Homo sapiens: one gene and its partners. The protein of the gene in region 5 purifies or fractionates together with the protein of the main gene of each other region. This does not show direct contact. Each region holds a gene or a part of one and is shown on either strand. Other genes may lie near its edges. The genes, in order: PDK2, DMKN, PDHX, PDK3, FOXD4 and RNASEH1.

Region 1 (4,065 bases), on a different chromosome or scaffold from region 5:
CTATGAAATGAGGCTAAGAATAATAAAATAGAGAATTAAATGAGATAATGCCTGTAAACAGTGCCTGGCATATAGCTTATTATTCATCCAGCTAAGAGGCCCTTCCATATGTGAAGCTTTGCTCTGTGAGGTCTGTATTACAATCACATTCAGTTATAGCTAATTATTTACTTATGTAGCTATCTCTGAAACTTAGAAATGAAATCATCGAGGAAAAAGGCCATTTCTTGATCCTGTCTGTGTTCCCTGTTCCCAGCATAAAGCCTAACACGTATTAGGCTAATGTCACCGAGCAAAGAAAGCATCAAAGTGGCGGGTCGGGCCCTAAACCCACGATGGGAGATACCACATTCGGCCACAAGAGGGCGCGTCACATTTTCTCCAAGAGAAGCTGGGCCGCTGATGAAGGACGGGCTCCGGGCCTCCCAGAGACACTTCACCTCCTGGGATCTTGCTCTAAGGAAGCCCGGTGCGAAGGAGGTGGCTTTCTCAGGTGGTCGCGCTAGATGTCCAAGGCTTTATGTTCGGTCAGATGAGCTGTATAATAAAATGAAAGTGTTAACTGGCATGGACGATAGCTGCTGCCTCCACCGCCACTAGTAGTGATGGTTTTTACTCTGGATGTTTTTCAGTTGGAAAAGCAAACTCCGCCTTTTCCTGAGCCGCTTGGATCTTTGTGGAAGCGGGTGGGCTGCATATATACAGGACGGATTCGTATAGGCTTGCACCCTGGTTCCGAATTTTGCAAATATTCGCAGTCTGGGTCACTGTCATCCGGACTGGGAATCCCCAAGACCCGTTAAGGGAGGATAGGTAACGATCATGACAGGTGAAACAGGTACCTTTGAGTTGGAGAAAAGGGATTGGTTGAAAGCTACCTAGACAACTCTGGAAAGGAAGGGTTAAAAGGAGCCTGCAGGTGAAGGAGATGCGAGGGGGTAGCAAGGGAAAGGCAGGCGTGGAAGAGGAAGCGAAAGGGCTGGCGGGGCTCTGGGAAGGAAGGGGTTAACCCGGGCTTCGCCCCGCGGAGGAAAGGGAGGAGTGAACACAGGGGAGGTGGGAACTCGGCGCGGCCTCCCCAAAACAACAGGCCGCCCCGGCAAAGCGTGGGTTAAGGGGGCGGGCCCGGGGGAAGCCACGTGCCGGGGCGGAAGGCTATTGGTTCGCCCGGAGTTGTTTGTGAGTGGCCATTGGCGACGTCGAGGCGCCATGACGAGCCGATTGGCTGGGCGTTGGAATGCCCGCCAGGGCAAGGGTAGGGAGGAGGCGGCCGAACCGCGTCGCTGGGCCGAAAGGTGCGCGAGCGCTGCCCGCGCGGGGACCACAACCAAAGTCGCGGCCGCCGCAGCCATGCGCTGGGTGTGGGCGCTGCTGAAGAATGCGTCCCTGGCAGGGGCGCCCAAGTACATAGAGCACTTCAGCAAGTTCTCCCCGTCCCCGCTGTCCATGAAGCAGTTTCTGGACTTCGGTACGGAGTGGGCGGGAGGCGGCTGGCAGCGGAGGCCGGCGGGGCGCTGGGAGGGGCAGCCGGGGGCTAGGGGGACGGAGGAGAAGAAAGGCCCCGAGTGACAGAGAAGGGTTGTTTGGAAAGGTACAGGCAGGAAAGAGTTAATGGGGAAGCAGGAACCGGCCGGGGCCTCTCGACGGGGCTGCTGATGGGAATGGGGGGCATTTACAAGGACGGTCCCGAGGTTTCTTCGTGGGCCTCATGAAGGGTCTTGAAGAGTAAGGGGCAGTGAAGCTGTGATGTTACTGCAGGAAGGGAGTAGGGTGGTATCCAGACGCGAAAGGGTTAATGGGAGTTGTCCTCATGACTGGAGGAGTAGGGGCCCCTCCTCCCACCAGAGGAAACCGGGGGTCTGCTGGTGGGAGTGAGGAGGCAGGGTTTAGAGGTGCAGCCATCTGTAGAGAGACCTGGACTGGGCATGAAGGGTCAGACACCCCTGGGCAGAGGGTGAGATTAAGCCAGGGGCAGTTGGGGAAGGGGGCTCTTTCAGAAGATGCCATTGGGAGACAGTGCCCTGACTGGTAGACATCCACCCACAGAAGGAGCTGGACCCTAGCTGCCCCAGTGGGCAAGGACACTTGAAGATCAAATCTGTTCCGGCCTGGCAGCCTCTCCCCAGCTGGGCAGGGGCCCCAGGCACCGTGATGTGGAGTCAAGCCGCCTATACCTCCCTTGGCTGCCCCAGGGCTGCTAGGTCAGGATCGCCCACTACCAGCAACCTGGGGGTGGCCCTGGGGCAGGAGGGAGGCTGTGCCAACGTGGCAGCTGAAATGGGCATTGTGTGGGCCCTGTCTGTCTATGTGGTATTTCCATGGTGCCAGCTGGGGACTGGGGGTGGGGGGCAGTCTCTCAAGAGTTGAGTTGATAGTGCCTAGCTTGGGTTGCAGCTGCGTCAATGATGGGACGGGAACAGAGAGGTGGCAGCCGAGACATAAGGCACCTGTTCCTCAGGACTTGTCTGCCTGCACCCCTGCCCTGCCTGAGTCTTGAGCCTCCCCCATGTAGGAAAGCCTCCTGGGCCCACCCCTAGCCCCCAGCAGCTGTCCCCACAAACTGCACCCTAATTACAGAAACATCACAGCTGTGAGGGGCTCACAGTAGAGTTTGGTCAACTTGTAGTACTATGGGGGAAACTGAGACCTTCAAAAGGATGATGGCATGGCCTGGGTGACAGAGTTGGAAGCAGAGCCTGATGGACTGGAACCCAGGGCCCCTGACCCTGGGCCAAGGCCATATTCGGTCCCCCACCCTTTCCATCTTGACACCAGACAAGGACCGAGGCATTTGGACTCCTGTTCTCAGGCCCGTTTGCCCCATGGATGGGCATTAAGACACAGCAGCCCCACATGGGCATTCAGGCCAGGCTGGGTGAGGTGGGCTGGCCAGAGACAACACTGGGAGCCTGCAGTGGTGGTCTAGCCATAGCCCCCCTCAGCCAGAGCCCAGTCCTAGGTAGGGATGGGTTTCCCAGGCTCCTTTGTCCCCTGGAATCAGCCCCTCAAAGTGAGTGTGCTGGGAGGGAAGGAAAGAGAAGTGAGGTGACTGAGGCCAGAGGCAGCTCCAAATGGGCCCAGGAGTGGCCCTGTCCACTGTGGTTAAAGGCAAGCAGGGTTCAGCTGGGGATGAGGAGAGGATGACACCTCCTGAAGTGTTAGGCATGGGGTGTAGGTGTTTGAGCCCTGCAGGGGATGGGGAGCCTTGCTGTGTGCCCCGGGCAGGTCACTTGCTCTCTGAGCCCCCTGTTAATGAAGGGTTTAGCTGACCTGGCCGAGACATCCTTTGGCTTTCATAGTCTGTGGCTCTGTGGCTCACCCCTCTTTCTCCTGCCAGGATCCAGCAATGCCTGTGAGAAAACCTCCTTCACCTTCCTCAGGCAGGAGCTGCCTGTGCGCCTGGCCAACATCATGAAAGAGATCAACCTGCTTCCCGACCGAGTGCTGAGCACACCCTCCGTGCAGCTGGTGCAGAGCTGGTGAGACCCCTGGCTCAGTCCCTGCACCTCCCACTCCATCGCCAGTGTCCCTGGGCTCAGGGATGGCATCTCCAAGCTTTTAGCAGCTTTGAGGGTGGGGTGGGGACAGACAGGAGACACCAAAGCCCCAAGCGCTTGGAGTTGCCTAGGGTCACGTGGGAATCTGAGGCCAGAGCAGGACTGAGGTCAAGCTCCTAGTCTCTGTGTCTAGCCCTCTTCTTACCACCCACCTTTCTCTGGAAACACAGGATCCACCTAGGAAAGCATGGTTTTCACAGCCAAAACCCCAATTCAGGCTGATGTCAGCATTAGCCAGCAGCCCAGACCTGGAACTCCAGTAACTGTTAGGCAGTATTTATTTGGGGGTAACTTTTTGGGAAGCAGAAACAAGAAGTAAGTTTTCAAATACATTATATAACCCAAGCTGCAAGACAGACTGTTTTGGATGTTGGAAAATACTCAGATACACACAAGGATGGCACAGTACCTTCCCGAAGAGCTTTGGAGGGGCAAAGACCAAACGTTTATTGCGCACTGCAGCAGGAACAGAGGGAAAGGCTCAGCAGAGTTCACTCAAGAACTCAAG
Region 2 (3,500 bases), on a different chromosome or scaffold from region 5:
GTCACTGAGCTTTGAGGTAGAAGATGAGGTTTCGAAAGCCAGCTCTGGCCAGGCACCAGCATAACTGTAATCCCAGCACTTTGGGAGGCTGAGGTGTGGGGATCATTTGAGCCCAGAAGTTTGAGACCAGCCTGAGCAACGTAGGAAGACCCTGTCTCTACTTTTTAAAAAGAAAATAATAGGCCATGTGCAGTGGCTCACACCTGTAATCCCAGGTAGCTAGGATTACATGCCTCAGCCTCCCAAGTAGCTGGGATTACAGGCATGTGCCACCATGCCTGACTAATTTTGTATTTTTAGTAGAGATGGGGTTTCACTATGTTGGCCAGGCTGTTTTCAAACTCCTGACCTCAGGTGATCCACCCACCTCGGCCTCTCAAAGTGCTGGGATTACAGGCGTGACCCACGATGCCCAGCCTCAAAAAAATTTAAGATATATATTAAAATCACCACCAGCTCTATCATGTCATCTGTATATCTTCAGGCAAGTCAGCTAACCTCTCCGAGCCTGAGCTTCCTCCAGTAAAATGAGGACAGTGAAACCTGACTCACGCAGCCTTCAGTTACTGTACAGCTTTCCATGTCACCACCAGACCAAGGTGTTGTGGAGTCCAGACTCTGGAGACAGATGCTGCATAAGGCATGGTGCTTGGCGTGCCGTGGGACTACACGTTAGCTAATCTCATTTGCTTGAGGTGTTTTGGGGACAGACCAGGATGGAGGCAAGAGTCTGAATATTGAGATTCAGGGGACTGGGTGGGGTTCCATGGGAGCAATCCATTCTAAGAAAGCTTTCCCAAGTGAACTTTTTGGTGCTGTGTAAGGAAGAGAAGGCAGCTTTATAGAGAGGAGGACAGGAAGCCTGGACCGAGGTGGGGATGAAGCAATCCGGGGCAGGTTGACAGGTGGCAGGCATGATAGGAAGCATAAGCCTTGGACATCGGTCCCCCTTTTCCCCACCCAGGGGCAAGGGTCGAGCTGGGGCAGTGGAGGAGGTGACGCTGTTGGTGGAGTCAATACTGTGGTGAGTGGAGGCAACACTCCACCTTGGGCTGGGACCATGGTGTCACACAATCCTCGCCTCCCCTCCTGCCACTCAGATCTCCCGACTCTGGCTCACAAAGTGGGTTCTTCTCTCATCCCATATCTCCTTGGTTCCATAGAACTCTGAGACGTCTCCTGGGATGTTTAACTTTGACACTTTCTGGAAGGTGAGTTCTGCGAGATGGCTCTGTTCACTCGCATTTGGAAAACCAACCCCTGCCCTTGGCCCCACAGTCTGGGGTCCTCTTTCTAAACCAACAGTCAGCAGTGGCCCTTGACCTCTCTCGGCCAATTACCTTATGACTCAATTTGGCCATTCTTCTTTTTGTTTCCTCCATAGAATTTTAAATCCAAGCTGGGTTTCATCAACTGGGATGCCATAAACAAGGTAAGGGCTGGACATCTTCGTCGGAGAGGGCTATAGGGAAGAAAGCTAAACCTCCGCTCTGTGAGCTGGGGAAACAGTGATGCTGGCCACTGAGGAAGCATTTAGGCCAGTGCTAAAAACAAAAACTAAACACACTGGGGGTGGAGGAGGGAGGACAGAGGAGACCTGAAAAGAGGGGGAGAATCTGGAGCAGCTGAGATTGAGGTTGAGCAGAGGGGACGGGCTTCTTTGCTGTTTCAGCATATAGACCCGAGCAGGTCCTGAACCTCACTTTCCCCTTTGAGATGGGGAAGGTTAAGGGGAGAGTAGATTGACTCCTAGAGGGCACATGGAATGAGGAGTGAGGTGGAGCTAAGAGGCCCCAAGAGGAAGGGCACCCAGAGAAAGGAACCAGCACTGGCCGAGAGCCTCAGGGGTGACAGGCATTAGTCTCTCCCGCACAAACAAAAACACAGCTGGGGCGCAGAACCCCTCCCTCCTTCCTCCCTGCCTACCCTTCCGTCTTGCAGGGGAACCCCTGGCCAGGCTGCTTTGATACCTGAGTAGCACAGGCACCTCTAGAGTAGAGGGGGCTGGAGTGGAAGGGAGGGGAGGAAGGACAGGTGGACAACCCATGCAGACACACCCCCGGCAGAAGCTGCGATTCGTGATTGGAGGATGGGTTTTTGAGACACTCTATTTTTTTTTTTTTTTAAGAATATGAATTAATTGTCAAAGTTTAAACATGGAGAGACTTCACATAATGATTTGGATTTCTGGTTTCTTTCAAAAACTTTGGTAACACTGGGTTCCATTTCCATGGGGTGGGGTTAGGCTAGAGCTGAGAAACAGCTGCTGCTTGGCCCAGGTGGGGGGTGTTGGGAATGGGTGGGGGGGTCACTCCCTAGTGGCCAGACTGTCCCTACCTGTCACAGTCATTTTAGCCACCTGACTGGCCCCTGTGAGCAGTGGAGTTTCTGGCCTTTAATGTAAAAGAGAGAAGACTGGGCTCAGGAAAATCTAAGTCTGACCTTTTAGGAAGGAGATTGAGGAGACAGGAGAGTACAGATGTTCCCACCCAGCTACAGTGGATTCATGTTCTCTGTTTCTTTTCTTTTTTCTTTTTCTTTCTTTCTTTCTTTTGTTTTTTTTTTTTTTGGTGAGACGGAGTCTCGCTCTGTCACCCAGGTTGGAGTGTAGTGGTTCGATCTCAGCTCAATGCAGCCTCTGCCTCCTGGGTTCAAAATGATTCTCCTGCCTCAGCCGCTCCAGTAGCTGAGTTTACAGGTGCCCGCCACCACACCCGGGTAATGTTTGTATTTTTAGTAGAGATGGGCTTTCACTATGTTGGCCAGGCTGGTCTCGAACTCCTGACCTCCAGTGATCTGCCCACCTTGGCTTCCCAAAATGTTGGGATTACAGGCATGAGTCACTGCATCTGGCCTCTCTGTTTCACAGAGAACGGTTTCTGGTAGGAGCAAGACTCTTTCCTGGGTCACAGGGAACTTAGGGTCTGATGGGAGAGCCGGGGCACATACAGACACTTCCCAGAGAGCCAGGATAGACACCCTGCCAGTTTTGCCCATCTAGGGCGGCAGTCGAGGGAGTGATCGCAGTGAGGCAGGATCCATCTGGGCCAGCTCCTCAAGGGGCAGATCTCCTAGAAAGCAGGGCAGGGCAGAGGTGGGCAGGGGAGAGAATGGAGCCCCATTCTTCACAGTGGGGTGAGGGAGCTGAGGACTTCAGCCAGAGTGAGGAGGGAGCAGAGGGGAACGCAGTGTAATGTTCCTGACGATGCAGGGGGTTCTTAAGCCCAAGCCAGGATATCTGGGTTTGTTTGGATAGCAGTGGTGGGCAAAAAGGTCCCTGTAGGTTTCTGGAGCAGGGGTCTCTTATACCCTTGTGCTGGCTCACAATGCCCTGGAATTCCTATTTCTCAAGCTCTCTCTTAGAACCTATTTCTGGCCAGGCGCGGTGGCTCATGCCTGTAATCCTAGCACTTTGGGAGGCCGAGGCTGGCAGATCACTTGAGGTCAGGAGTCTGAAACCAGCCTGGCCAATGTGGTGAAACCCCATCTCTACTAAAAAT
Region 3 (3,500 bases), on a different chromosome or scaffold from region 5:
TTTTTAAATGGCTTGTTAAACTGAGTTGGATAGTTGGATTAAGCATTTTCTTAACAATTAATACACCAGGGTGCTAATTATTTTAGAAGGCTCTTCTGTTAGGGTTTATAATTCATCATGTCATACCATACAACTTGTACTATATTAGCCTTTCTTCTATTGATTCATGTCAGCTGACACTAACATAAACCTTTTTGTGACAAGTTAATTAAATTACCATTCATTACCATCCAACTTAAATATAGTTATCTTGACAGTTATAGCAGAGCTGCCAAAAGAGAGAAACAAACTCTTCTAAACTTTATAATAATTAGTGAAAATTTCATATTAGTGAAATAAAAAGGATAGTTCTCATCTGTTTGGCTTCATAAGTCTTCTATTCTCTTTCCAAAGTTTTACATTTCCTATCAGTTACTTTCCTAATGTCATACTAATTTTAAATTCCGTCTTTTCTCCTGTAGAGCCCTTTTAAAGGTGTTCTAGAAAAACTACTAATCAACTTCAAGGTTTATTGAACTTTTGTGTTTTAACATTTAAAATACAATAGAAATGTTTATATTTTCTCACATTTTACTGCACAATACAAAACTGATTTAAATGCATTAAGAAACAACATTTTGTTTTTAAATAAACACTAACAAAATGTTTGGCAAGAGATAACACAATTTATTTAAATATATTCCGACTCAAGATGAAGGCAAGCGGTTTACCTAGAAAGGTTTACATATTTTAGCTATAGTTTTTCATTGAACCATTTTTTTGAAATGTCATTCTTTTCATTCATGCTTCTTTTATCCTCTTGCTTTAGAAGTTCACAGTGTTATATAAGTGAAAAACAAGACAGATAGAAACCACCCTAAACATATGGCTTTATGTACATAAAAAATTCAATAATGTTGCCATAACCCCTAATACAGTGTGATCCTTATTTATTTATTATCCAGAATAAACTTCTGTACCTATTAAATTCTTCAAGTATATCTAGAGCAGTGCTTGTAAAAGTGAGGTCCCACTGCTAAGTTAATGGCCATCTCTTTGAAGATCACTTCTACCTTCAACATAATTATGGTACAGTTCTAATAGTTTTTTTAATTTTACATGTATCATACATTCTCAAATATTCCAAAATGCTCAAATGAGCCAAACATATACTTTGATTTACATCTAGTTTAATATTCCCTTTATACAGCACCAGAGGTTAAAAATGGATCTGAGTAACCAAATATTCTCTTTCCTTTATTAGTTAGAGTTTATCATCATTTATTTCTATAACATTAAACCCAAATTGAAGATGAAGACACCCTGGGTCAAATGCTTTCACCTTAAATAAATAAACATTTCATCCACTTCATACTTAAATACCAAGTTGTTTTCCTATAACATATGTTTCTTGGTAACAACTACTGAATCAACTAAGCTGAACACCAACTTCTTATCTTTGAGGACTAGGCAAGTCGGATAGGATTCTCTAGGTTTGCTTTAAAACTTTTAAGAAACCTGGTTGCCAGTTCGTCATCAACCACTCGACTGTCACTTGACATTGTGACTGTTATGAGCTGGCGCTGCTGCAGTTTGGCATTTCCCTCTTCATCCTCAGTGAGCTTCAGCACAGGTCGGAACCTCCCAACCGCCAAAATGCAGGCCTGAGGAGGGTTAATCACTGCAGTAAATTCGTCGATGCCAAACATCCCCAAGTTGGAAATACTAGGGGGAAAAGAAAAAGCTCTGAAGGAGGCATGTCCTTAATCAAAGTCCCCTTTCCGTGAAGCACATATTTTATATATTTTACTAGGCAGTGTAGTAAGGCAAGAAAAAAATATATGAGTAATGAAAAAAGGAAACATTTAGTATTTACAAATAAATTAATTGTGTACACAGGAAAAATGAGACTATAGATAACTAGTAAAATTAATAAGTAAATTTAGTTAAGTCATCAGATAAAAGGTCAATATAACAATCCATTTTATATCGAGTCATGTCCCACATAACGAAGGATCACATATACAACGGTGGTCTTATAAGATTATAATGGAGCTCAGGAATTTCTGCTGCCTAGTGGCATCATAGCTGTCATAACATCATATTGCAATTACTTTATTTTAAAAATAAATTTAGTGTAGCCTAAGTGTGCAGTGTTTATAAAGTCTACAGTAGTGTATAGTGATGTCCTAAGCATTCACTCATTCACTGATTCTTCCAGAGCAACTTCTAGTCTTGCAAGCTCCATTCACGGTAAGTGCCCTAAACAGGTGTACCATGTTTTACTTTTTACATTTTTACTGTACATTTTAAAAATGCTTAGATATGTTTAGATACCCAAATACTCATCATTGTGTCACAACTGCTTACGGTATTCAGTAGAGTAACATGCTGTATAGGTTTGCAGTCTAGGAGCAACTGGCTATATCATACAGCTAAGGTGTGTAGCAGCATGTACCATTTAGGTTTGTGTAAGTACACTCTATGATGTTTGCATGATTTGCGTAAGTACACTCTATGATGTTTGCATGATGAAACTGCCTAACAATGCATTTCTCATATCCCCATCATAAAGTGGCACATGACTCTACATACAAGTTGCTATAATTAGAAAATAAAAATTTAAAACAATACCATTTATAATAGTATCAAAAAACAAATACCAAAGAATAAATCTAATGAAACATATACAAGACCTCTACACAGAAAATTATAAAACATAACTGAAAGAAATCAAATAACTGAATACACAATGGTTTCTACCATATTCACAGGTTAGAATACTCAATACTGTAAGGATGTCAATTCTCAAATCATCAAAAGACTTAATGCAATCCCAATCAAGAAACCAGCAAGGGGTGTGTGTGTGAAAAATGGCAAATCAATTTTACAATTTATTTGGAAATACGAAAAGCCAGAAGACAATCTTGAGGGTGAACAAAATTGGAAGACTTCATTACCAGCTATCAAGAGTTATAGCTTGGTGGTAGTAAACAAAGGATAGACAAACAGGCCAGTGGAAAAAAAATAGCACAGAACTAGACCAACACATATATAATCACCTTTTCAATGCTATGAAAAAGGAGAAATCAATATTCAATACATGATGCTGTGTAAATTTAGTATCCATATGGGGAAAAAAGAGCACTTGAAACTTCACATTATATACAAAATCCAATTTCAGTTGAATTGTGATCTACATGTGAAAAGTAACGTAAATGCTTTTAGAAGATAACACAGAAGAGTAACTTCATGACTCTGAGATAGGCAAAAATTCCTAACAGAAAATGAACAGTACCAACTACAAAGAAAAATACTGATAAATAGGAATTCATTAAAACTCAGAACTTCCGTTCATTTAAAAAAATCACCGAGAGAGTCCCAAAGGCAAGTCACAGAGTGTGAAAGCTATTTGAAACAATATATATCCTATAAAGGTCTGTATATCCAGAAATAAGAACTATACATCATTTTTTTAAATGGACACCAGATTGCAGTGGGTACTTTATCTCATGAATTAC
Region 4 (3,500 bases), on a different chromosome or scaffold from region 5:
TCTTGAAGAATGGACTGGATACCATGCAGTAGGTATGGAAGCTGGAAGTAGGTATGGAAGCTGGAAGTAGGTATGGAAACTGGAAGTAGGTATGGAAGCTTCCAGTAAGCTGGAAGATCTTAGCGAAATGGCATGGACCAACTATGAAGCAACCCAAAAAGGGTAGCATGATGTTGACCAGTTGGAGGAGTATAAAGAAACTCCATTTCATGTTAAGGCTGGGAACATTCTCCTCCAAGGGACACATGAATCATTGTTATTGCATTAATAGGGAAGAAAATGTCTAGGTACACTGTTGTGGTTGTTCTACAGTGATCAATATTTACATAGTTATAATGTCACCAACACTTGATTTTCTACTTTCTTGAAAGAACCTATAGGCAATTTACAGCATCCCTAATTTGGGTTACAGAACAGAATGTAAATATTACCAACCCAAAGACTACAGCAGAAGTAGTAAAGAGTGGCTGCCTCTGGGTTCAGACTGAAGGATAAGATAGGAAAGGGGGAAGGACTTTTGTTTTTCTTCTTTTGTTAAATTTTTAAGCCGTTTACATATATTACTAAGTGATTTTAAAAACAACTGCTCAGGCCAGGCACGGTGGCTCACGCCTGCAATCCCAGCACTTTGGGAGGCCGAGGTGGGCAAACACCTGAGGTCGGGAGTTCGAGACCAGCCTGTCCAACATGGCAAAACCCCGTCTCTACTAAAAATACAAAAATTAGCCAGGAGTGGCGGCGCACACCTGTAATCCCAGACACTCAGGAGGCCGAGGCAGGAGAATCGCTTGAACCCGGGAGGTGGAGGTTGCAGTGAGCCGAGATGGCGCCACTGCACTCCAGCCTGGGCAACAGAGTGAGACTCTGTCTCAAAAAATAAATAAATAAAAATAAAAATAATTGCTCTTTGAAGAGTTCGGGATTTAGACTCAAAAGCTCTTTGTTCAGGTGTCTGGTTTCGGTGCCACTTCTGGGACCACGGGCAAGTCACACAGGCTTCCCAAAGCCTGTTTCCAGACCTCTAAACACCACCACCCCTCTAGGAGCCAGGAAGTGTTGTCAGGAGGAGTCAATTGAATAATGTATGTGAAAGCTCTGTGTAGACTGCTAAGAATCAAGCAAATGTGAACTCTAATTTGTATTACTGTTAATTACTTTATTAGAGGAAGTAGCTGGTTGAAATTACAGCATTCTACCTGAGAGAGTTCATGTAGTTTCAATCTCTTAAGTGATTTTGGGTCATGAGGAGGAGGAAGGACTGTATTTTTGAGCATCTGCTCTGTACCGCACACTGTTCTTATTGCTTCACCTGGGTTTTGGTGTTTCTCAGATTGTCTTCAGATGACCCATGGTGCAAGGGGAAAAGATCATAGGTCTCTAGGGGTTTATGTGCTAGCTGCTTGAGAAAAAGTTATGTGAACCTTACATTCTATGCTATAAGATGCCTTGTTTGTCATAATTTAACAAAACTGAACACTGCCATTTAGTCCAGTTCACCAGCCCTTTTTTTTCCTGTTGCTCCACATTCTCCCGTGGAATTCCCCCTGGGGTCAGTGGCAGAAGGTAGCCCCCAATTTGAAAAACACCAAGTGATATCTGACTGGCCTTCTGTAATACTCAGGATGTTATGGCATAGGTGATAATATTCCAATTCTGCTCAACAAAGTTTCAAAGAGATTGAGTGATTTATCCAAGGTCACATAGCTGGTAAGTGAAGGAACTGGGTGTCACCCCAGGTTTGTTTGATTCTAAAGCATATGCTTTTGCTCAGCCCTGCCTTTAGAGGTGGAAACTCAAATTAGCCTTTTATAGAGCTCTGTTTTACACACTTGGAAAATAGAATGCAAACATCATTCTTGAATTTCTCCTACTTTGGGTCCTTATTGATTGATGGTTTTGTCTCTGTTTTCAGCCAAAGCGCCAGACAAACCTATTCAGGTGGTTTATGTGCCCTCACATCTGTTTCATATGCTATTTGAGTTGTTCAAGGTAAGTGGAATTTTAAAAACGTGGAAAGAAGTCTTCATTTTAAATTACTTTGATTCAGGGCATAATGGATTCATTAGATTAGCATAAGAAAAAGGTTTTGCATAACCATTTTAAAAATTCTATTTCTGATATCCTGTGGGTTTTATAATTTGTACACTGTGAGATGAGAAATTGCTGTGTACACTATAGTTTTTGTGAATATTAGTACATATTGATTTTGAAGCTTAATTGCACTTTAGTGATTTTATGTAAAATCCATACTGTTTTTTCTTTAGTTATGAGATTAGAGATGCTTTTTAGTTTCCAAACCTGGCAAAGGCTTTACTGGTGATAGCCAGATCAAAATAAAAACATGTTTATACATATTTATGCTTCTGAAAATTAACCACACTGGTACATTAGTGGTTGTTCCAGTCCTGAGAGATCCTGCAACTCTTTTATAAAATATTTGAATCAATTCAGAAGATCCAAGAGAGGCAGAGGAGAAAGATGTAGATGAGCTGGACCAAAAGAACCACCCCTCCCCCCCACCAAATTCTTTAGAGTCTGCAACTTAAGCTGTTGCTTTTGTTAATCAGTAGCTAATGACATTTACAGTAGCAGTATTACAGGCACAAGGCATTTGAGCTAAAATTTCATTTCTTCCAATGCGTGAAACACTAAATTGAACACCTGAAAAATCAGTTATGCTGATTTGCTTCCAAAAATTAGAATGTTACTGATGTAACGCTTTAAGGTTGAAATGGGCATTCAATTGTGAACTTTCTCTTCAGCAGCTGTGGCTTTTTCAGAATTTCTTTTTAACCAATATTTCTTCTACTTTTTTCAGCCAAATGATTAATTTTTGTGGGAAGCATGCATCCTTTCAGTTTTTCTGCCTTCTTTAGAGAAAAGGTGCTCTATAAATGCAGACTGATAAATAGGATTTAAAGTGCACAAATCAGCCTCTGCATAGCCTCATTACATGCGATAAAAACATTCCTCTGGGTTGAGTTGAATAATTTAAATACCGTAAAGCGAAAAAAAAAAAAAAAGAGGAAGAAGAAGAAGGAAAGAAAAATAAATATTTAGCATGTTGGATGAGGCTAAAACTAGGTGAAAAACAAAGTGTCAGGAAATTTTTCCTTGATTTGAGCACGTTTAGCTAAGCTCTTTAGAGGGAAAAATGCCATAAAAATCCAACTAATATTTGCCCCAAAAAAGGGTTGTTGGGTATAAGTCATCTTGCGCTTCTTTCTCTTTAAAAATTGTGGTTTGTGATTCGGCAGTATGATTAATAAAAAGATCTTATTATTTTAGAACTCAATGAGAGCGACAGTTGAACTCTATGAAGACAGAAAAGAGGGCTACCCTGCTGTTAAAACCCTCGTTACTTTGGGTAAAGAAGACTTATCCATTAAGGTAACTGTTTTATGTGCATGTATACTTTAATTATCAGTTGTGATTTAATAGTATCTAGACATTGAAAAATCAGAGGGAAGGAAATTGACATTTATTGAGTGTCCTGTTTG
Region 5 (3,886 bases):
AAAATACAAAAAATTAGCCGGGTGCGGTGGCGGGCGCCTGTGGTCCCAGCTACTTGGGAGGCTGAGGCAGGAGAATGGCGTGAACCCGGGAGGCGGAGCTTGCAGGGAGCCGAGATCCCGCCACTGCACTCCAGCCTGGGCGACAGAGCGAGACTCCGCCTCAAAAAAAAAAAAAAAAAAAGGAAAAAAAGAATGAAGAGCCAGAGCCAGGCATAGTGGCACGCCTGTAGTCCCACCTACTCAGGAGGCTGAGGCGGGAGGATCACTTGAGCCCAGGAATTCAAAGCCAGCCTGCGCAACATAGACCCTGTCTCTAAAAATGAATTGGTTATAAAGGATGAAGAAAGGAAGGAGGAAAGGGAGAGAGAGAAGCCCTTATAGAGTGGGTGCATTTCTTGTATGTGGGGCCACTTTGTAAGAACAGGATTTTTCAAACTGGGCCCATACTGGTATGTGTGAAATCAATTTAGTTGGTTATGGCCATTTTTTTTTAAAAGGAAATATCAGTGATCACTATAGTGTAAGTATATTGTTTCGTGAAAGCCATCTTAGTTATGTATTATGTCTGTATGTGTAAGATTGTGATATAAAATGTATTTCTGTGGTTAAATATTCAAAGAAATTGGAGAACCATTGCTACAAGGGGACAGAGGACTCCGTGTGAGCTCTCCTGCCTTCCCTGAATAAACTTACACAATTTAGTGCTGGGACATTTGAACCTTTTCTGAAAATTTGAGTCAGGGAGAGCATCTTGGGGAGGTGGGAAGGAAGGTAGAAGGAGCAAAGCAACACCCCCCTGAAGCCTGGGAATATTGTCAGAACCTTAAATATAATTCAGCTCACCATTCTGGGTAAGGACAGACTCTACCAATGAAAATGGGTGATTACCAGCTGTGAAACACAAAAACATACTTTCACGGTTACACATTCCTTTACAAACAACCGTGTACATTTCAGCCTCCTACCCCACCATTTCTTTTCTCCAGGCGGGAAGGCTGCATGTCGAGGTGGTCGTAGAATGTTGAGTATCCTACTTTCCTACCTCGCTTTTATTTGCGCGGGTTTAAATGCGCCTTAACAGAACCCGTGCAAAGGCTTGCCTACTGTCTGGCTGCACCGGATGAGTAGAGCATCTTCCTTGGTGGCAGGTGGGTGCGAGGAGGAGGGCGCTGGGCTTTTCTCCGGACGGTGTTTGCCCAGAAGACCATCATCCCTGGACTACGTTAGGAGGAAGTGGCACCGCTCCGAGGTAGGGGAAGAAGGGTTATAAAGGGAGGCGTCCACCACACATGGTCTTGAAGAAGCTTTTATAAAAGGCGAAGGCATCTTTGCCGGACGTTGTTGCAAAGGCGTAGAAACAAGCAGAGGAAAACATCCCAAAGGGTAACCACTAGCGTTCCTGCTTCTTGCAACATTCATCCCGGGCTTCCAGCTCAGCCCGCCGGGGCCAGGTGATCCGGCCGCCACATCCCCTGCGACTGAAGCACCTGCTCCGCCATGAACTTGCCAAGAGCTGAGCGCCTTCGCTCCACACCGCAGCGCAGCCTCCGGGACTCCGATGGGGAAGACGGTAAAATCGATGTCCTGGGAGAGGAGGAAGATGAAGACGAGGAGGAGGCGGCGAGCCAGCAGTTCCTAGAGCAGTCGCTCCAGCCGGGGCTGCAGGTGGCCCGGTGGGGCGGGGTTGCGCTTCCCCGAGAGCACATCGAGGGCGGCGGCGGCCCGAGCGACCCCTCAGAGTTTGGCACCGAGTTCAGGGCACCGCCAAGGTCTGCGGCGGCCTCTGAAGATGCCCGGCAGCCGGCAAAGCCCCCCTCCTCGTACATCGCGCTCATCACCATGGCCATCCTGCAAAGCCCGCACAAGCGCCTCACGCTCAGCGGCATCTGCGCCTTCATTAGTGACCGCTTCCCCTACTACCGCCGCAAGTTCCCCGCCTGGCAGAACAGCATCCGCCACAACCTCTCGCTGAACGACTGCTTCGTCAAGATCCCCCGCGAGCCGGGCCGCCCAGGCAAGGGCAACTACTGGAGCCTGGACCCCGCCTCCCAGGACATGTTCGACAATGGCAGCTTTCTCCGGCGTAGGAAGCGTTTCCAGCGCCACCAACCGACCCCGGGAGCCCACCTGCCCCACCCCTTCCCTCTACCTGCTGCACACGCCGCCCTGCACAACCCCCGCCCAGGCCCTCTGCTTGGGGCCCCTGCCCCGCCGCAGCCAGTCCCGGGGGCCTACCCCAACACCGGCCCCGGGAGACGCCCTTACGCTCTGCTGCACCCGCATCCTCCTCGCTACCTACTGCTCTCGGCCCCCGCCTATGCCGGGGCACCGAAGAAAGCAGAAGGCGCGGACCTGGCGACCCCGGCACCCTTCCCGTGCTGCAGCCCTCACTTGGTCCTCAGCCTTGGGAGGAGGGCAAGGGTCTGGCGTCGCCACCGGGAGGCGGATGCATCTCTTTCAGCATTGAGAGTATCATGCAAGGGGTCAGGGGAGCGGGTACAGGGGCTGCGCAGAGTTTGTCCCCGACCGCGTGGAGCTACTGCCCCCTGCTCCAGCGACCGTCAAGCCTGTCGGACAATTTTGCAGCAACAGCAGCGGCATCAGGAGGAGGACTGCGCCAACGGCTGCGCTCCCACCAAGGGCGCGGTGCTGGGCGGGCACCTGTCGGCCGCGTCGGCGCTGCTGCGGTATCAGGCGGTGGCAGAGGGCTCTGGGCTGACATCGCTGGCCGCCCCTTTGGGCGGAGAGGGGACCTCACCAGTTTTTTTAGTATCGCCCACGCCCAGTTCCCTGGCCGAGTCCGCAGGGCCCTCCTAGAGCCAGGTGGGAGTGGGGAGCGACCCGCAGCTGCTCACTCCACCTTGCGCGGCCCATACTGGGCGTGTGCATCTGAATCCCGCTGGAGAGCAAACACGAACTTCTGTTCCCTGCAAAATGGTTAGAAAGAAACAGCTGGATTACGTTCCTCTAAAAACCACCTGAACGTAACCTTCGCAGGGCGTCAAGTCATCTTTTCTTGCCTTCGGTTGTGGCTTCTGTGGCTTTCCCGATTTGCACATGTCCTGGGGTACTATGAACGTGAGTGGGGTATTTTGTTCTGGCATTAAAAGAAAAACAAGCAAGCAAACAAAAACACAGCCTCCGATGCCAAACATGTTCCCCCTTCTTCACTTCCTTGGAACTGGAAGTATTATTCCTAAGTCTAGTGCAAAATGCTTCTACTCTCTGTGTCTTCCTGATAGGGATGTTTAATGTAAGTAGGATATTAATTTCAGAACATTGATTTCTTATCTGTGTGTCTGACGTGCCATCTTTAATGTTAAAATTAAGGTGTTAAAATTAAGCCTAGTTATATAGACGAAATAAAATGCTAAGTCACTACACTACATCGTTTATTTTCTATTACGTCTCATTCTTCCCTTTCTAAATGGAACTTTTTAAAACCTACATTATTTTCCCTCAATTTATTTTCACAATTCATATTTATTATAGATAGCAGAAGTAATCCATTTTAATATGGCCTTTAAAAATTCCAAATATTTGAGGTTGAAAATGTCCTGGCTTTTAAAATAGGAAATTTACTATTTATGAGACTTCTAAAAGAATGAATAGGAGGGCATGTAAATATATTCTCCATTTATTTTTCCTCACCCCCCAACAAGCTGGAAAACCATTTGAGATCAATTTGGAATGTAGTGGCCAACATGTACTCAGGGAAAATAAAAGGCTATAAATATACATATATATATATATATATATATATATATATATATATATATATATATATATATATACACATTTTTTAAGCACTAGAATTTTCAAAACTTATTTCCTAAAAAAAAAACTCTGAAAAGACTTTGCAACTAGAAAGGTTTAAGTGTTACTC
Region 6 (3,500 bases), on a different chromosome or scaffold from region 5:
AAAAAAAAAGAAAAAAAGAGCACACACCTGCCATATGACCAAGCATTCCATTCCAAGGCATTTACCCAAGAGAAACAGAAGACAAAGACGAGGATATAAATGTTCACGGCAGCTTTATTTGCTTTATTTTTATTTAGAAATTGGAAATAATCGAAATATCGGTCAACAGGTAAATAAATAAACTGTGGTATATCCATGCAATACAAAATGTGGATTATTGATGTACACAAAATGGGTGAATGCCAAAATAATTATGCTGAGTAGAAGCACCTCCCCCCACAGTACTTGCTCTGCGATTCCACTCAGATAAAATTCTAGAATATATAAATTAACCTTTAGTGAGAGGGAGCAGACCAGTGGTTGCCTGAACATGGAGGACACGAGGGACGGTTTAGACCGGGGTGTGAAACTGCTGTTGGTGGTGATGGACATGTTCTGGCGACAGCTTCACAGGCAAATGCATCGGTCACTTCACGTATGTGCAGTTCATTACCTGTCAGTTACACCTCAACAGAGCTGTTTTAAAAAGCAAGGTGGGGCCGGCTTTGGTGGCTCACACCTGTAATCCCAGCACTTTGGGAGGCCAAGGAAGGAGGATCGCTTGAGGCCAGGAGTTTAAGACCAGCCTGGGCAACACAGTGAGACACTGTTCCTATTTTAAATAACAAAACAAAACAAAAGTGGTACAATAACAACTTTTAAAACTCAAAAAGAAACAAAGAAAGAGATAAAAGAGATTCAAGAGACAGTGGCAAACACTGAGAACAGCCAATTTAGATTTCAACATACAGATAACAGGGATCCCCACAGAAAAAAGCCAAAGCAAGAAAAATGTAACACTAAACTCCAGTTCAAGCAAATCTTCTTAAAATAACAGATATGAAGTACACATAGAAAGAGCACACCATACGCTTGCAAATATGGACCAGGACAACCAATACCAACACATGACACATTCGAATAAAACGGCCGACTTGACAGAAAAAGGAAAAAATCCTTTGGGCATCTAAGGAAAAACAGCATATGACTGTCAGGGGAAGAAAACAAGATTCATCAGGCTTTTCATGCATCACTTTATGCTGGAAGAAAACAGAATAAAACAAGATACTCAAAGAAAATCTGGGCCAAGAATTTCGTATCCAGCAAAACTGAATTCAACATCAGAAACTCAAGGAATACTGTCCCCAAGATGACACTGACTATAGACTGGTTATGAGACCTGAACACACAGAAATGAGTCAATGGTGGTAAAAAGGAGCAATTTTTCTGACAACGTAGACACAGTGCTGTTTTCATCATCACAATTAATGCTATGGTATTAGTATTTTTTTTAAATGCTAAATGCTAAAGAGGAATAAAACAAGTGAGTGATTAAGGGATGGATATTCCATGCCATTGTCCTGTGTCTTGAGAAGCAGGATTCCGAGTGCAGGAGACACAGACATCATATAGAGGAGGCTATGTAAAGGCCCCAGGACCCTGAATTTGTATTGGGAATATCAATATAGGCTCAGAAAATATTCTTCCTTTAAATATGTGTGTGCAATGTTTGTATTTTTTTAAAGCTCCGTCCAAAAATCTAGAAATAATGACCAACGCAATAGCAATGAGCATCCTAAACTGGATCTGAAATACCATCTCTACCAGAGACTCTGGGAAAAATAATGGATTCCAAGTGTTAAACGGAATTAAGTTTGGCCTAAAACTGCCTCTGTACATAGTGACTTATAACCTCACTTAATGTATAAGCAAACTGGGACCTGACTTGAGAGTACACTTCTGTAACAAGCAGCAGAGTCTCACCAATCACATGCTGAAGGCTCCCAAAACATGCCTATGTGAGGTGGAGGCTGACCTGCAGTCAGTCTGGCCATGTACATGTGTCTTTCCCTTCCTGTGGCTATAAATAAATACAGCCTGCACACAACGCACAGGAGAACGTTCTGAACCACTTTTGGTCCTGAGTGCTACCCAGCTGAAGAAACTATTTTCTGCTCAATTAAACTGCTAACTTGTCTAAAGTTTTTCTTTTAAGACAGGTTTGGAGCAGAAGCTCTATAAATTGGGCCTAGAGCATCTTGACATGCCAGGCTGCAGGGAGCTATCAATGACTGTGCGTGTGGTCTGTGCACACATGTATGCACACATGTGCACACTTATCAAAAGAAAGCAAGAGCCAAGCTGAAGAGGCTCCCTCTCACTGACCGAATAAGCTAGTCTGAGCTAAATAAAGATAAAAATCACAACGGATTGAAACCCACCAAGTATGCTTAACTCCACAAATTCTTTTTTTTTTTTAAGACAAGGACTTGCTGTCGCCCAGGCTGGAATGTGGTGGCATGGTCACAGCTCACGCATCCTCGACCTCCTGGGCCCAAGCGATCCTCCCATCTCAGCCTCCAGAATAGCTGGGACAACAGGCAGGCACTACCACACCCACCTGATTTTATTTTAATTTTCTGTAGAGACAGGGTGTCACTATGTTGCCCAGACTAGTCTCAAACTCCTGGGTTCATGTGATCCTCCAGCCTCAGCCTCCCAAAGTGCTGGGATTACAGGCATAAGACACCATGCCCAGCCCATGAATTCTTGTATATATGTAAAAACCCTTCACCACTCACCTTCCTTGACAGACAACTAATGCATTATCTTAAAAACTTAGTGTACAAGAGCAAAGAATCAAGCATTTATCCTGCCCTTCCTATATGAACTGTACCACTGGGTAACCAGATAAGTATAAAAAAGAAAACACTTTCTTAGAAAACCATTCCAGCTAATAAAGGCAAGCAAAACGACAGAATGAGAATACCACCATTTTGCAACCCCAAATAATTAATGGATCTTGGCACTGAGCATCAGCTGCCGTCAACATGGTACTTTCCTGAGGAAAGCTCCTAACCGCCTGTTCTCCTGCCAAAGGGATCAAATTTGAGGCTCATCAAGCCTCTGGACCCAGCTGCCAATGTGCAGGAAACATAGAGGACCATGCTGAACTACACCATGACCACGTGGTCAGCAAAATCTACACTGTGGGAAGCCATGGGACAAACAGCCCAGGCTCTTCAACAGATAAACGGCAGGGAAAACAGTGAGGCCGACGGGACTGCAAATGGACACTGAAGTAGATAAAAAAATAAACAAAAAAAAGCAGACAAGACTAAACTGCCATCAAAAAACCAAGAAAGTCATTTCTGTAAAAGTCAGGATTACTTGTTGGGGCAAGGAGGGGGAGAAGAAGAGGGCTGTGGCTGGAGGGGCACTTGGGAGAGCCTCCTGGGGTATCTGGCAAAGTACTATTTCTTCACCAGGTGGTGGACACAAAGGTTATTCACCTTACAATCATAATCATTCAATAAGCTATACATTTGTTTTGTGTCACTTCCTGTATGTTTTTATAATAAAAAGGTTTAAAACTAAATAAATAATCATGTCAAACTTTTACTACTTTTTTTTTTTTTTGAGACAGAGTCTCACTCTGTTGCCCAGGATGGAGTGCAGTG

The links.
Region 1: the proteins of FOXD4 (region 5) and PDK2 purify together in Homo sapiens (affinity purification with mass spectrometry; 2 studies listed by BioGRID and IntAct, with this or other methods). This does not show direct contact.
Region 2: the proteins of FOXD4 (region 5) and DMKN purify together in Homo sapiens (affinity purification with mass spectrometry; one large-scale study listed by BioGRID and IntAct). This does not show direct contact.
Region 3: the proteins of FOXD4 (region 5) and PDHX purify together in Homo sapiens (affinity purification with mass spectrometry; 2 studies listed by BioGRID and IntAct, with this or other methods). This does not show direct contact.
Region 4: the proteins of FOXD4 (region 5) and PDK3 purify together in Homo sapiens (affinity purification with mass spectrometry; 2 studies listed by BioGRID and IntAct, with this or other methods). This does not show direct contact.
Region 6: the proteins of FOXD4 (region 5) and RNASEH1 purify together in Homo sapiens (affinity purification with mass spectrometry; one large-scale study listed by BioGRID and IntAct). This does not show direct contact.

The regions. Positions count from the first base shown.
Region 1 is NC_000017.11:50,094,086-50,098,150, forward strand, and holds the start of PDK2 (pyruvate dehydrogenase kinase, isozyme 2 isoform 1 precursor), read left to right. Parts: upstream 1-1,265; 5' UTR 1,266-1,350; coding exon 1,351-1,468; intron 1,469-1,609; exon of another isoform or gene 1,610-1,725; intron 1,726-2,046; exon of another isoform or gene 2,047-2,201; intron 2,202-3,337; coding exon 3,338-3,479; intron 3,480-3,812; exon of another isoform or gene 3,813-4,065. UniProt on the Homo sapiens protein: Kinase that plays a key role in the regulation of glucose and fatty acid metabolism and homeostasis via phosphorylation of the pyruvate dehydrogenase subunits PDHA1 and PDHA2.
Region 2 is NC_000019.10:35,503,650-35,507,149, reverse strand, and holds part of DMKN (dermokine isoform 2 precursor), read left to right. Parts: intron 1-964; coding exon of another isoform or gene 965-1,024; intron 1,025-1,163; coding exon 1,164-1,211; intron 1,212-1,384; coding exon 1,385-1,432; intron 1,433-3,500. UniProt on the Homo sapiens protein: May act as a soluble regulator of keratinocyte differentiation.
Region 3 is NC_000011.10:34,993,118-34,996,617, reverse strand, and holds the end of PDHX (pyruvate dehydrogenase protein X component, mitochondrial isoform 1 precursor), read right to left. Parts: intron 1,705-3,500; coding exon 1,446-1,704; 3' UTR 490-1,445; downstream 1-489.
Region 4 is NC_000023.11:24,524,286-24,527,785, forward strand, and holds part of PDK3 (pyruvate dehydrogenase kinase, isozyme 3 isoform 2 precursor), read left to right. Parts: intron 1-1,912; coding exon 1,913-1,989; intron 1,990-3,288; coding exon 3,289-3,390; intron 3,391-3,500. UniProt on the Homo sapiens protein: Inhibits pyruvate dehydrogenase activity by phosphorylation of the E1 subunit PDHA1, and thereby regulates glucose metabolism and aerobic respiration. Can also phosphorylate PDHA2.
Region 5 is NC_000009.12:115,731-119,616, reverse strand, and holds FOXD4 (forkhead box protein D4), read left to right. Parts: upstream 1-1,199; 5' UTR 1,200-1,497; coding exon 1,498-2,817; 3' UTR 2,818-3,386; downstream 3,387-3,886.
Region 6 is NC_000002.12:3,541,334-3,544,833, forward strand, and holds the end of RNASEH1 (ribonuclease H1 isoform 1 precursor), read right to left. Parts: 3' UTR 97-3,500; downstream 1-96. UniProt on the Homo sapiens protein: Endonuclease that specifically degrades the RNA of RNA-DNA hybrids.